Homo sapiens: one gene and its partners. The protein of the gene in region 2 purifies or fractionates together with the protein of the main gene of each other region. This does not show direct contact. Each region holds a gene or a part of one and is shown on either strand. Other genes may lie near its edges.

Region 1 (3,650 bases), on a different chromosome or scaffold from region 2:
ACAGAACCTCTTTGGCCTGGAATCCCTCCAGCTGGGGTGGGATGGGGCGATGAGGTGTCTGTAGACTCACTGTCCAGATTCTTACAGGACATACTGATACTCCTTTCACCCCACAAAGCACAGGCTTAAACCTAGGGATCTAGACTAGTGCAGGCCCTGTGGAAGGGGTCCCAGATTGAGTGTATGGACCACTCCTCCATAGGACCTATTAATGATGATGAGGCCAGAATTGGGGTCTGCTCTGAGCAAGTCCCTGTACCGTGTGCGCTGGTACACAGAACCAGCAAAGCTCTGGGCAGCTTTGCTGACAGCTGGCTTCACCTTGGGGGCAAGGCACCCGTCCATGTGGTCAGCACCACGGGGTAAAACAGCAGGCTAAAAGTGACATCGTTAGGCATTCCATCTTGTTATCTTTTTGTTGTTAGAAATAATCTACAAACTGTCCAGTGGTGCTTTGAATAACCACAAGCTGGCTATATCCAGTGCCGGAAAGGAAGGGCAATGGTAGGGATGGGTTGATTTGTCCCAAGGTCATGAGCTTTCCAGCAAGTATGAATTTCCCTCTTCTCAATTCAAGGAGTTGCTGAATTAATGATGAGTTTCAGAACACTGTTCGCTGGGGACTGTAAGTGCCGGACACATGCCAACACCCTGGTCCTTTCCACATTTCTGTGGACATAGCTCATCTAACTCCCACTTTTGCCCACAGAGGAACTGTCTCAGAGTTAAATCAGTGGCACCTACCTGGGTGGGAACTCAGTGCCTCTGGGGCATGGATGGATATGGTGGAACAGAGATGATAAAGACAGAGAAAGCAGAGGCATTAACCTCAGCAGTGGCCAAAGCAAACAAAACCATGATGAGAAAACCCGGGATACATCTGGAGCATGTGTAGGCGCTTGCAGGTGGAACGAAGAGAGTATGGTGGAAACATACCGGGCAGTCAGAATCAGAGGACATGGGGACAGTGGGGAGGGCGCATCCAGTTTCCACTTTGGATATTTTGAGACTATCTATCTATCTATCTATCTTTTTTTTTTTTTGAGACGGAGTCTTACTCTGTCGCCCAGGATGTAGTGCAGTGGCGCAATCTCGGTTCACTGCAACCTCCGCCTCCCGGGTTCGGTCAATTTTCCTGCCTCAGCCAATATTTACATTTTATAACAAGCATGTGTTACTTTTGAAAGCATAAAAGTTGATGGCTTGAGTGGTGAAGTACAGTTGCTCCAAAGCCTAACCGGAAACACTGATGTGGCTGCTGCTGTGAACGGGGAAGGTGGGAGGGTGTAATGACTAAACTCTGTTTACTGTTTGTTTTGTGCCATGTGCTGCTTTCATTATGTGTATTAACATACATAAGCTGCAAAAAAAAAAGATAATCAAAATACGTCCTGTATACAGATGAGGAAACTGAGGCACAAAGCAGTTGAGTAACCTACCCAAGGAGGCAGAAGCGATTCAAACCCAGGCAGTTTGGGCTGGGCACAGTGGCTCACGCCTGTAATCCCAGCACTTCGGGAGGCTGAGGCGGGTGGATCACCTGAGGTCAGGAATTCGAGACCAGCCTGGCCAACATGGCGAAACTCTGTTTCTATTAAAAGACAAAAATTAGCCGGGTATGGTGGGGTTTGCCTGTAATCCCAGCTACTTGGGAGGCTGATGCAGAATTGCTTGAACCCAGGGGGCAGAGGTTGCAGTGAGCCAAGATTGTGCCACTGTACTCCAGCCTGGGAGACAGAGCGAGACTCCATTTCAAAAATCAACCAACCAACCAACCAACCAACCAACCCAGGCAGTTTGGCTCTAGAGCCTGAGCTCTCAAGTACTGTCCTGTACCACCCAAGAAAGACCAGAGAAGACAGCGTGAAGGACAGAAGTGTGCCACAGGCATGGCTAGGTGCTGCAGAGATCTGGCAGGGAGCAAATGGGAAGAGGACAGTCATTCACAGACTCGAAGTTCAGAGGAAAATCAAGGATGAGGCGATCTGGAAATGCTGAATTGCCTGAGAAGAAATTTCATGTAGTAGAAACGGTATGTATTCATTTGGAGAATGATGAAAAAGTAAAACTGGAGGAAATTAAACTGGGGAGGAAAAAACTGGTGTGTAACTAACAACCACATCAACCACTATATATCTTCTTCAAGGACTACTGCCAGAAAATATTTTAATAAATTCTCTTAGTGGAGCTTTTAAATACAGTGTATAAAGCATCTCACAGCATACAAAAGAGAGTTTTCCCAGACTTTAAATGAGAAAAGAGAGGTTTCCATGGACCTTTCAAAAACCACTCAACACAAGCATTCCTTTGTATACATAACACAACAACAACTGGAAAGTCCTTACCATAAAACTCATACACATGTGACACAGCACGTCTAACTTCTTTGTTAATAATCAAAAATACCATGTTTATGAAATGAATAATAAAGCAGCCACTTCTTCAGAAGTGGCATAATTTTAAGTCATTTTGAAGAGAGTGGTAAAATAGACTGCATTGACAAAACAACATTTTAAGACCAAGACATTTTTATTCTAGTAATCTATTATTTTCATCAATCTTACTTACCTTTGAAGATTTCCTTTGTGATTTTCTTCTTCCTATAAAGAAGAAATAACTTCATCTGAATCGGTTAATTTTGGTTGTCCAGAAGCCCTGAATGTACTTAAGTGATTTGTTTGCTCTGCACCCCCAGGAAACCACCATTTAAAATGTGCACTGAGGCCAAGCTCTGGTTAGGAGTGCTACTGCCCTGAGGCCTTTAAAGTACAATCATCAAAGCGAGTCCACAGCATGATGAGGGGCTGGAGCTTCTGTAGTCCAGGGAGAAGCCCACATGAGTGAGAACAACTGGCTATAAACTTTGTCATGGAGGAGGTGGCTCTTCTGTGCTTCCTCAAAGGACCTCACTGACTACATGAATTTCAAAGCGGGATTTGTAACAACCTAAGTGTGAGAGTGAGACTGAGAGAGAGAGAGAGAGTGTGCATGTGTTATGTTAGAGAGAAAGATGGAAGGTGATAGAGTAACGTTAGTGGTCCCGATCTTGCTGTAGAAGTTGGCGTGACATCCTTAGACTCGGGCACTTGGTTGGTTTTAAACATTCCCATTTAGAATCAGAGGCAAAGTACAGTGCCTTCCCCTTTAAGAAGAATGATAGCTGTGTTTGTAGAGAACGGCATAAACACGAGGTTGTCTGCTGAGAAAACACTCTTGTGCTGATGTGGTTTTGAAGCAGCAAGACTCTGACTAACAGTAAGGGAAGCATATTTTTCAAGACAGTAAATAGCAAGGGGTACCCTTCCCCTTAATGAGCATGCCCCTTGTCTCTGCCATGCAGGGTCCAGTGGGCTGGAACCCACGCACAGGCTCCTGACCCCACCCCACGTTACCTCTACTATGTAATCGGACTGTATAAGATTGCCAATAGATCAGACAGGGTGGGACTGTGGCAATGTCCTATCAACCTGGTACACATTGCTGAGGATAAGGCATTTGACCTTACTGATGTGGGTGAAATATAATTTCTGCATACTTCAATAACACTATTTGATATGAACTCTTCTAAGTCTTGAGTGTTTAGGAGACCAAATGATAGGTGCAGCAACTGTTGAACTGCTTCACAGGTAATGAGTCCTAGAATCAACTTT
Region 2 (3,650 bases):
GTTCACCAGATTGGCCTGTAATTTTGTTTCTTGTCTGGTTTTGCTCTTAAGGACAAACTAGCGCGTAAAAATCAGTCAGGCAGTGGCAGTTCTTTCTTTAGTCTCTGGAAGAACTGGCATAAAATGTGAACATCTGGTAGGATTTGCCTGTAAGACCATCGGGGCCCGGTGTCTTTTGCGTGTATGGTGTAGACAGCGTGAGGGCAGGGGAGAGTCCATCCAAGGCAGGATAATTCATTCCAATCATTTCTCTGAAGTTGAAGGAGGGGTGGGGAAATCATGAAATCACCCACCATTCCTTTTCCTCTAAGTGAGTTAGAGACCTCATATCTAGGCTGCAAAGCCTGTGTGGGCCCTTTTTGCAATAATGTCACCATACTCAGCACAGATGCCTGCTCTGGAAGAGGTGGTGGGGAGAGTGAGGCTGTGTGTAACTGAGAATACAACATAAATAAACCTGCTGTGTTCTCCAGATCACAGGAAGATTTCAAGGAACCAAAGTCCACCCTTAAAACAGAGAGGCAGCTCAGGTTTATTTATTTTTTATTTTTAATTTATTTACTATTTATTTATTTATTTATTTATTTTTTGAGATGGTCTTGCTCTGTCACCCAGGCTGGAGTGCAGTGGCACAATCTCGGCTCACTGCGGCCTTCGCCTCCTGGGTTCCAGTGATTCTCCTGCCTCAGCCTTCCAGGTAGCTGGGCTTACAGGCACGCACCACCACACCCAGCTAATTTTTGTATTTTTTTTTCAGTAAAGATGGGGTTTTGCCATGTTGGCCAGGCTGGTCTCGAACTCCTGACCTCAGGTGATCCACCTGCCTCGGCCTCCCAAAGCGCTGTGTTTGTTGGTATGAGCCACTGCACTCGGCCAATTTTTTTTTTTTTTTTTTGAGACAAAGTCTCGGTCTTGTTGCCCAGGCGGAATACAGTGGCACCATCTTGGCTCATTGCAACCTCTGCCTCCTGGGCTCAAGCAATTCTCCTGCCTCAGCCTCCCAAGTAGCTGAAATTACAGGTGCCTGCTATCACACCAAGCTAATCTTTATATTTTTAGTAGAGACGGGGTTTTACCATGTTGGCCAGGCTGGTCTTGAACTCCTGACCTCAGGTGATCCACTTGCCTTGGCCTCCCAAAGTGCTGGGACTATAGGAGTGAGCCACCGCGCACGGCCTTTTAATTTTTTTATTTTTTTGAGACAGAGTCTCACTCTGTCACCCAGGCTGGAGTGCAGTGGCATGATCTCGGCTCACTGAAACCTCCGCCTCCTGGGTTCAAGCGATTCTCCTGGCTCAGCCTACTGAGCAGCTGAGATTATAGGCATGTGCCACCACGCCCAGCTAATTTTTGTATTTTTAATAGAGACAGGGTTTCATCATGTTGGTCAGGCTGGTCTCGAACTCCTGACCTCAAGCAATCCACCTGCCTCAGCTTCCCAAAGTACTGGGATTACAGGCGTAAGCCACCATGCCCAGCCCTCTTTTATTTTATTTTATTTTTATTTTTTGAGATAGGGTCTCACTCTGTTACCCAGGCTGGAGTGCAGTGGTGAGGTCACACCTCACCGCAGCCTCAAACTCCTGAGCTCAAGCGATCCTCCCGCCTCAGCCTCCCAAGTAGCTGGGACCACAGGCACACACCACCGCACCCAGCTAATTTTTAAAAAATTTTACTTATTTTTTAGTGGAGACAAAGTGTTGCTATGTTGCCCAGGCTGGTCTCAAACTCCTGAGCTCAAGGAATCCTCCTGCCTTGGCCTTTCAAAGTGCTGGGATTACACGTGTGAGCCAATGCATCCGGCCACAGCTCAGGTTTATCTACAAAAGCCACATGCATCCTTAGCAACGCACACATTGGACTGCCTGTGATCTGAGATTTCCCGGCAATTTCAGGGATACATGAAATTAGTTCTCTTTTCCCATGGGGGTGGTTCTGGGAACATCAGAGATATTGTGACCTGTCCCATAGAGAGTCGGGAACTTACCTGAGGCCACAAAGCAAACCCAGGGCCAATCCTGACCTCTATCAACATACACCGAAGACCTGGTCCCACAGGGACCTGCCCCGAGCCCCACCCTGTGCCCATACTCACCTCCCGACCAGTGAGGATGTGCCGAGCCAGCTTGACTTTGGCAAAGTTGCCCTTCCCAATGGTCCTCAGCAGGCGGTAGTTGCCCACGTGGGGCTGCTCCTCGGGACAGGAGGCGATGGAGTTCCGGCAACGGGCACCCAGTGAGCGGCTGGACCAGGACGGGCCTTTGTCCGAGGAGCGGCCACTGCCCAAGGTGCCATGCTGGGCGGGGGAGATGGAGCATGAGCTATCCAATCCCACCTTCCGTGGAACCCGTGGGCTAGTGCACTTAACTTGAGGCCTGGCTACCGGCCCCTCCGTGGCCCTTTTCAAACTCAGGCCCCAGAGAGCCAAGCATCCTTCATCTTTCTCTACAAAAAGACGCCTCCAGGAACAAAAGCCCCCATGTCCTCCAAATCTGCAACATTCAGGGCCCCAGGCATCACACCCCTTCTTCAACCCTCACTGCAGTCTGACTACCCCCAACCTCCTTGTCTTTTTTTTTTTCCTTCGGATGGAGTCTTCCTCTGTCACCCAGGCTGGAGTGCAGTGGCACGATCTCAGCTCACTGCAACCTCTGCCTCCCGGGTTCAAGCCATTTTCCTGCCTCAGCCTCCCGAGCAGCTGGGATTACAGGCGTGCACCATCATGCCTGGCTAATTTCTGTATTTTTAGTAGAGACGGGGTTTCACCATGTTGACTAAGCTGGTCTCAAACCCCTGACTCAGGTGATCCACCTGCCTCGGCTGTACGGATTACAGATGTGAGCCACCGCATCCAGCCCCAACCTCCTTTTCTAATTACACACATACCTCAGAGATATCGCAAGTTTGGTTCCAGACCACCGCAATAAAGCAAATACTGCAAAAAAGCAATGCACATGAATCTTTTGGATTCCCAGTGCATATAAAAATTATGGGCCAGGTGGCCAGGTGCAGTGGCTCAGGCCTGTAATCCCAGCACTTTGGGAGGCTGAGGTGGGTGGATCATGAGGTCAGGAGTTCGAGACCAGCCTGGCCAATATGGTGAAAACCCCATCTCTACTAAAAAAATACAAAAATTAGCCAGGCATTGGCACACGCCTGTAATCCCAGCTACTCTGGAGGCTGAGGCAGGAGAATCACTTGAACCTGGGAGGCAGAGGTTGTAGTGAGCCGAGATCGCTCTACTGCACTCTAGCCAGAGTGATAGAGTGAGACTTGGTCTAAAAAAAAAAAAAAAAGGCCAGGCATGGTGGCTCACACCTGTAATTCCAGCACTTTGGGAGGCCGAGGCGGGCAGATCACGAGGTCAGGAGATTGAGACCATCCTGGCTAACAAGGTGAAACCCCATCTCTACTAAAAATACAAAAAATTAGCCAGGCGTGGCAGTATGCGCCTGTAGTCCCAGCTACTTGGGAGGCTGAGGCAGGAGAATGGCATGAACCCAGGAGGTGGAGCTTGCAGTGAGCCGAGATCGCGCCGCTGCACTCCAGCCTGGGTGACAGAGCGAGACTCTGTCTCAAAAAAAAAAAAAAAAAATATTATGGGCCAGGCGAGGTGGCTCACGCCTGTAATCCCAGCACTTTGGGAGGCC
Region 3 (3,650 bases), on a different chromosome or scaffold from region 2:
CTGGATGTGCTCTTCACTTTCCTCTCCAGTGAGCCGGAGCGCATGGCCTGGCGCACACAGTTGGTGATCTCCTTCATGTCATCACTCATGTTGCCTGACATCTCAAAGTCATGCAGGGCCGCTGGGAAGCCAGGCCCGGCCGCCGAGGGGCTGCCCGCTGAGCCTCCGTCCAGGCGCTGCCGTGAGAAGTTGCAGAGCCACCGACCATAGGAGCTCTCAGCCAGCCCATCAGCCTCGGCCGACTCTTTGGGCTTGGCTGTGGTGAAGAGGAAGCCGGGCTCGATAATGATCTTGCCCTCTTTGTCATGAACCACAGGGACTCCGAGGCGCCGGGCCACCGGGGGACTATAGTAGACTCGGATGCCCGTCTTGTCAGGAGCCGTGTAGCTGCGCTGCATCTGCCTCCCTGGGGGGTCCTGGCAGGCCAGGGCACCCAGGTGGTTGCAGTCCCTCGACGAGAGCCCAGGCTTCTCCTTGGTGTCTTTCTCTGGATCCCCTGGCTCGGAGCTCACAAAGCCAAAGGCAGGGTTGTTAGGCAGCTTCTTGCCCCGGGCATCTCCGCCAGCAAGGTAAGGGGAACAGTCGAGCAAACTTTCAAACTCAGACATGGAAGAAACAGATTTGGTTCTGCGAAGGACAGAGGAGGAAACGTCGTTATTAGTGGAAATAACACTGAGGGCACACTCTGGTCTACCACCCTGGTCCGTGTGCTGCGTGAGGGCAAAGACCAGGACCGTCTTGTTCACCTCTTGTAGAGATGTTGTTGGTGCCCAGTCCCACATTCTGTCTGCATTTTCTTTTTTTTTTTTTTCTCCCAAACAGGTCTTGATATGTCACCCAGGCTGGAATGCAGTAGTGCAATAATAGCTCACTGCAGCCTCAAACTCCTGGGCTCAAGTGATCCTCCCATTTCAGCCTCCAGAGTAGCTGGGACTACAGGTGTGCACCACCAAACCTGGCTTTTTTTTTTCTTTTTTTTTTCTTGAGACAGAGTCTTGTTCTGTCACCCAGGCTGGAGTGCAGTGGCATGATCTCGGCTCACTACAACTTCCACCCTCCAGGTTCAAGAGATTCTCCTGTCTCAGCATCCGGAGCAGATGAAATTACAGGCGTGCGCCACCACGCCCAGCTAATTTTTGTATTTTTAGTAGAGACGGGGTTTCACCATGTTGGCCAGGCTGGTCTGGAACTCCTGACCTCAGGTGATCCACCCGCCTCAGCCTCCCAAAGTGCTGGGATTACAGATGTGAGCCACTGTGCCCAGCCTAACACCTGGCTAATTTTTAAAAAATTTTTTGTAGAGATGGGGATCTCCCTATGTTGCCCAGGCTGGTCTCAAACTTCTGGCCTCAAGAGATCTTCCTGCCTCTGCCTCTCAAAATGCTGGGATTAGAGGCATGAGCCACTGCACCTGGCCTCTCTTTGCACTTTCACCTATACACCTAAAACTGCATACTCTGAACTGCATACTCCACCATTCTCTATCTGATGGTTTTTTTTTCTGCCTGTGGGATCATACTTGGCTGTCCTACACATAGAAGAAGCTAGACCCAGCACTTTGGGATGCTGAGGCAGGCAGATCACCTGAGGTCAGGAGTTTGAGACTAGCCTGACCAAGATGGTAAAACCCTATCTCTTAGTAAAAATACAAAAATTAGCCAAGCGTGGTGGCGTTAGCCTGTAACCCCAGCTACTCAGGAGGCTGAGGCAGGAGAATTGCTTGAACCTGGGAGGTGGAGGTTGCAGTAAACTAAGATTGTGCCATTGCACTCCACCCTGGGAGACAGAGCAAAACTCTGCCTCAAAAAAAAAACAAAAACAAAAAAAACAAAACACACGCCCAAACCGAAGCTAGAGATAGCACAGAGTTAATGAGTTCACACCCCTAAACACAGCCCTCAACAAACAATAGGTGGGATATGGTGAACAAGTGCCCCAGCCTCCTTGTGGTGGGATGACTCTAAGCTGCATGTTCTCCTCTGGCTCCCTGAGTTCCTCCGACAGCCTGAACTCCAGTTGCCCGTGGAATAACCTGGTTGAAGCTCCTTTTATCGGCTGCTTTCCCTTCCCTGTCTCACTTCCAAGTGTTTCCTGAAATTCTGTCCCAAATAAACCATTTGCACTTAAATCTTTGTCTCAGGGTTTGCTTATGGGGGAACCCAAACTAAGACGCCATGAAGCTCCTGGCACACCTATTGCCTGAATCACTGAACACACCAGGCATATGGAAATGCACGTGTCAGACCACTCTGATTAACTTCAAGAGGCAGCTCCTATCATCCCCACTAGACAGAGATGGGAAGTACTGCTCAAGGTCAAGGTCATAGAGCTAGAACTGGCAGGGCTGGCATTCAAACCTGGCCCTCTGGCTCCACAGCCTGTCCCGCCTGCCTTGCTTCTGGGCTGGTCTGATAGCGGCTGGGGGTTCTGTTTCCCTGACTCCTTTCATGGGTTTCCTAACAGTGGAGACGTGGTCCTTATGGTCTTGGGGTGGGGGTCTCCTTGGCCATAGCACAGGGCTGGGCCCAAAGGATGCTGCTCAATAATCCCAGGAATAGAGGTCAATCTTGACTCTCCTAACTCCAGAGGCAGGAGAAAAGAATCCCAAGAGGAGCAAAATGTTTTGTTTCCACCTGTGTTCCATTCCCGGACTCAAACAACATGCAGCAGCCTGGAATTCCCACTGCCCCAAGCCTTCCAGCTCCTGAGTGGCTCGGGTTCCAGAGAAACCATATCCCGATGCTCTCCCAACTTGGATGCGGTGGGGTGGCGGCAGGAAGAGGGCAAAGGGGCGGGGCAGGGCTGCGGTGAAAGCAGGTAGAGTGGGTGCAGGGCGCAGCAGGAGGTGGAGAGGGGCGAGGCTGTGGGGCCGGTCAGAGAGGCAGAGCAGGGGACCAGCATGCAAGCACCTCTTTAAACCATTTCCTCCAAGCTCAACTTCGGAAACAGCCTCCTTGTCGTGGATCTTCTCACTGCGTGTCTGTCAAGGAAGAGAGACAGGAAGGGTCAGTTCTGGCCACCAGAGCACTAAGGGCATGGAACAAGAGACCAGCCCCGACCTCAGTGCTTGAATCTCCTCATCCGGAGAGCAGGAATGATGTCATCAATGATCTAGCATGGTCAGTTTCTGGCTGCCCTGCATCCAACTCCCCCACCATATGTGATCCAGGCTGGGCCAATCAGAGCTCCAAGAGTGACCCACCCAAGGAAAGGGACCACTTAAAATTTAATCCAAATGTGGTGACTGCAACAAAGCATCCAGTGGTCCACTGCTCAGCTGGTGGTGGGCTTGTCTTCTTCCTCCTCAACCCTACCCCCTCACTTAGCCCAGTCCCTGGGTGGTTGGGTTTTTTTTTTATTTTTTTGAGGCAGGAACCATGAGATACAGACTCCAGGGCTGAGGAGCCCAAGGTGCAAGGGTGTGACCTATGAGACAGGGTTAGCAACTTCCTCTCATGTCCCCCACAAGCAGGGACCTTTATGGTGCAGCCAGGAGCCAAGATAGCATGGCAGCAGCCGCCCCACTCACCTCCTTCCAGCTGTTGTCCTGCTTCTCCAGCTCCGAGTGCTTCAGGACCCAGGGGTCGGCAGCCTTCTGCAGCTGGGCAAGGGCAGAGAGGGTGGGTCGGTAATGGGCAAAGCTGGTATGC

What was found.
Region 1: the proteins of MARK4 (region 2) and MTCL1 purify together in Homo sapiens (affinity purification with mass spectrometry; one large-scale study listed by BioGRID and IntAct). This does not show direct contact.
Region 3: the proteins of MARK4 (region 2) and MTCL2 purify together in Homo sapiens (affinity purification with mass spectrometry; one large-scale study listed by BioGRID and IntAct). This does not show direct contact.

Annotation. Positions count from the first base shown.
Region 1 is NC_000018.10:8,820,417-8,824,066, reverse strand, and holds part of MTCL1 (microtubule cross-linking factor 1), read right to left. Parts: intron 2,601-3,650; coding exon 2,569-2,600; intron 1-2,568. UniProt on the Homo sapiens protein: Microtubule-associated factor involved in the late phase of epithelial polarization and microtubule dynamics regulation.
Region 2 is NC_000019.10:45,257,635-45,261,284, reverse strand, and holds part of MARK4 (MAP/microtubule affinity-regulating kinase 4), read right to left. Parts: intron 2,297-3,650; coding exon 2,096-2,296; intron 1-2,095. UniProt on the Homo sapiens protein: Serine/threonine-protein kinase. Phosphorylates the microtubule-associated protein MAPT/TAU. Also phosphorylates the microtubule-associated proteins MAP2 and MAP4.
Region 3 is NC_000020.11:36,793,973-36,797,622, forward strand, and holds part of MTCL2 (microtubule cross-linking factor 2), read right to left. Parts: intron 3,602-3,650; coding exon 3,530-3,601; intron 2,981-3,529; coding exon 2,910-2,980; intron 628-2,909; coding exon 1-627. UniProt on the Homo sapiens protein: Microtubule-associated factor that enables integration of the centrosomal and Golgi-associated microtubules on the Golgi membrane, supporting directional migration. Preferentially acts on the perinuclear microtubules accumulated around the Golgi.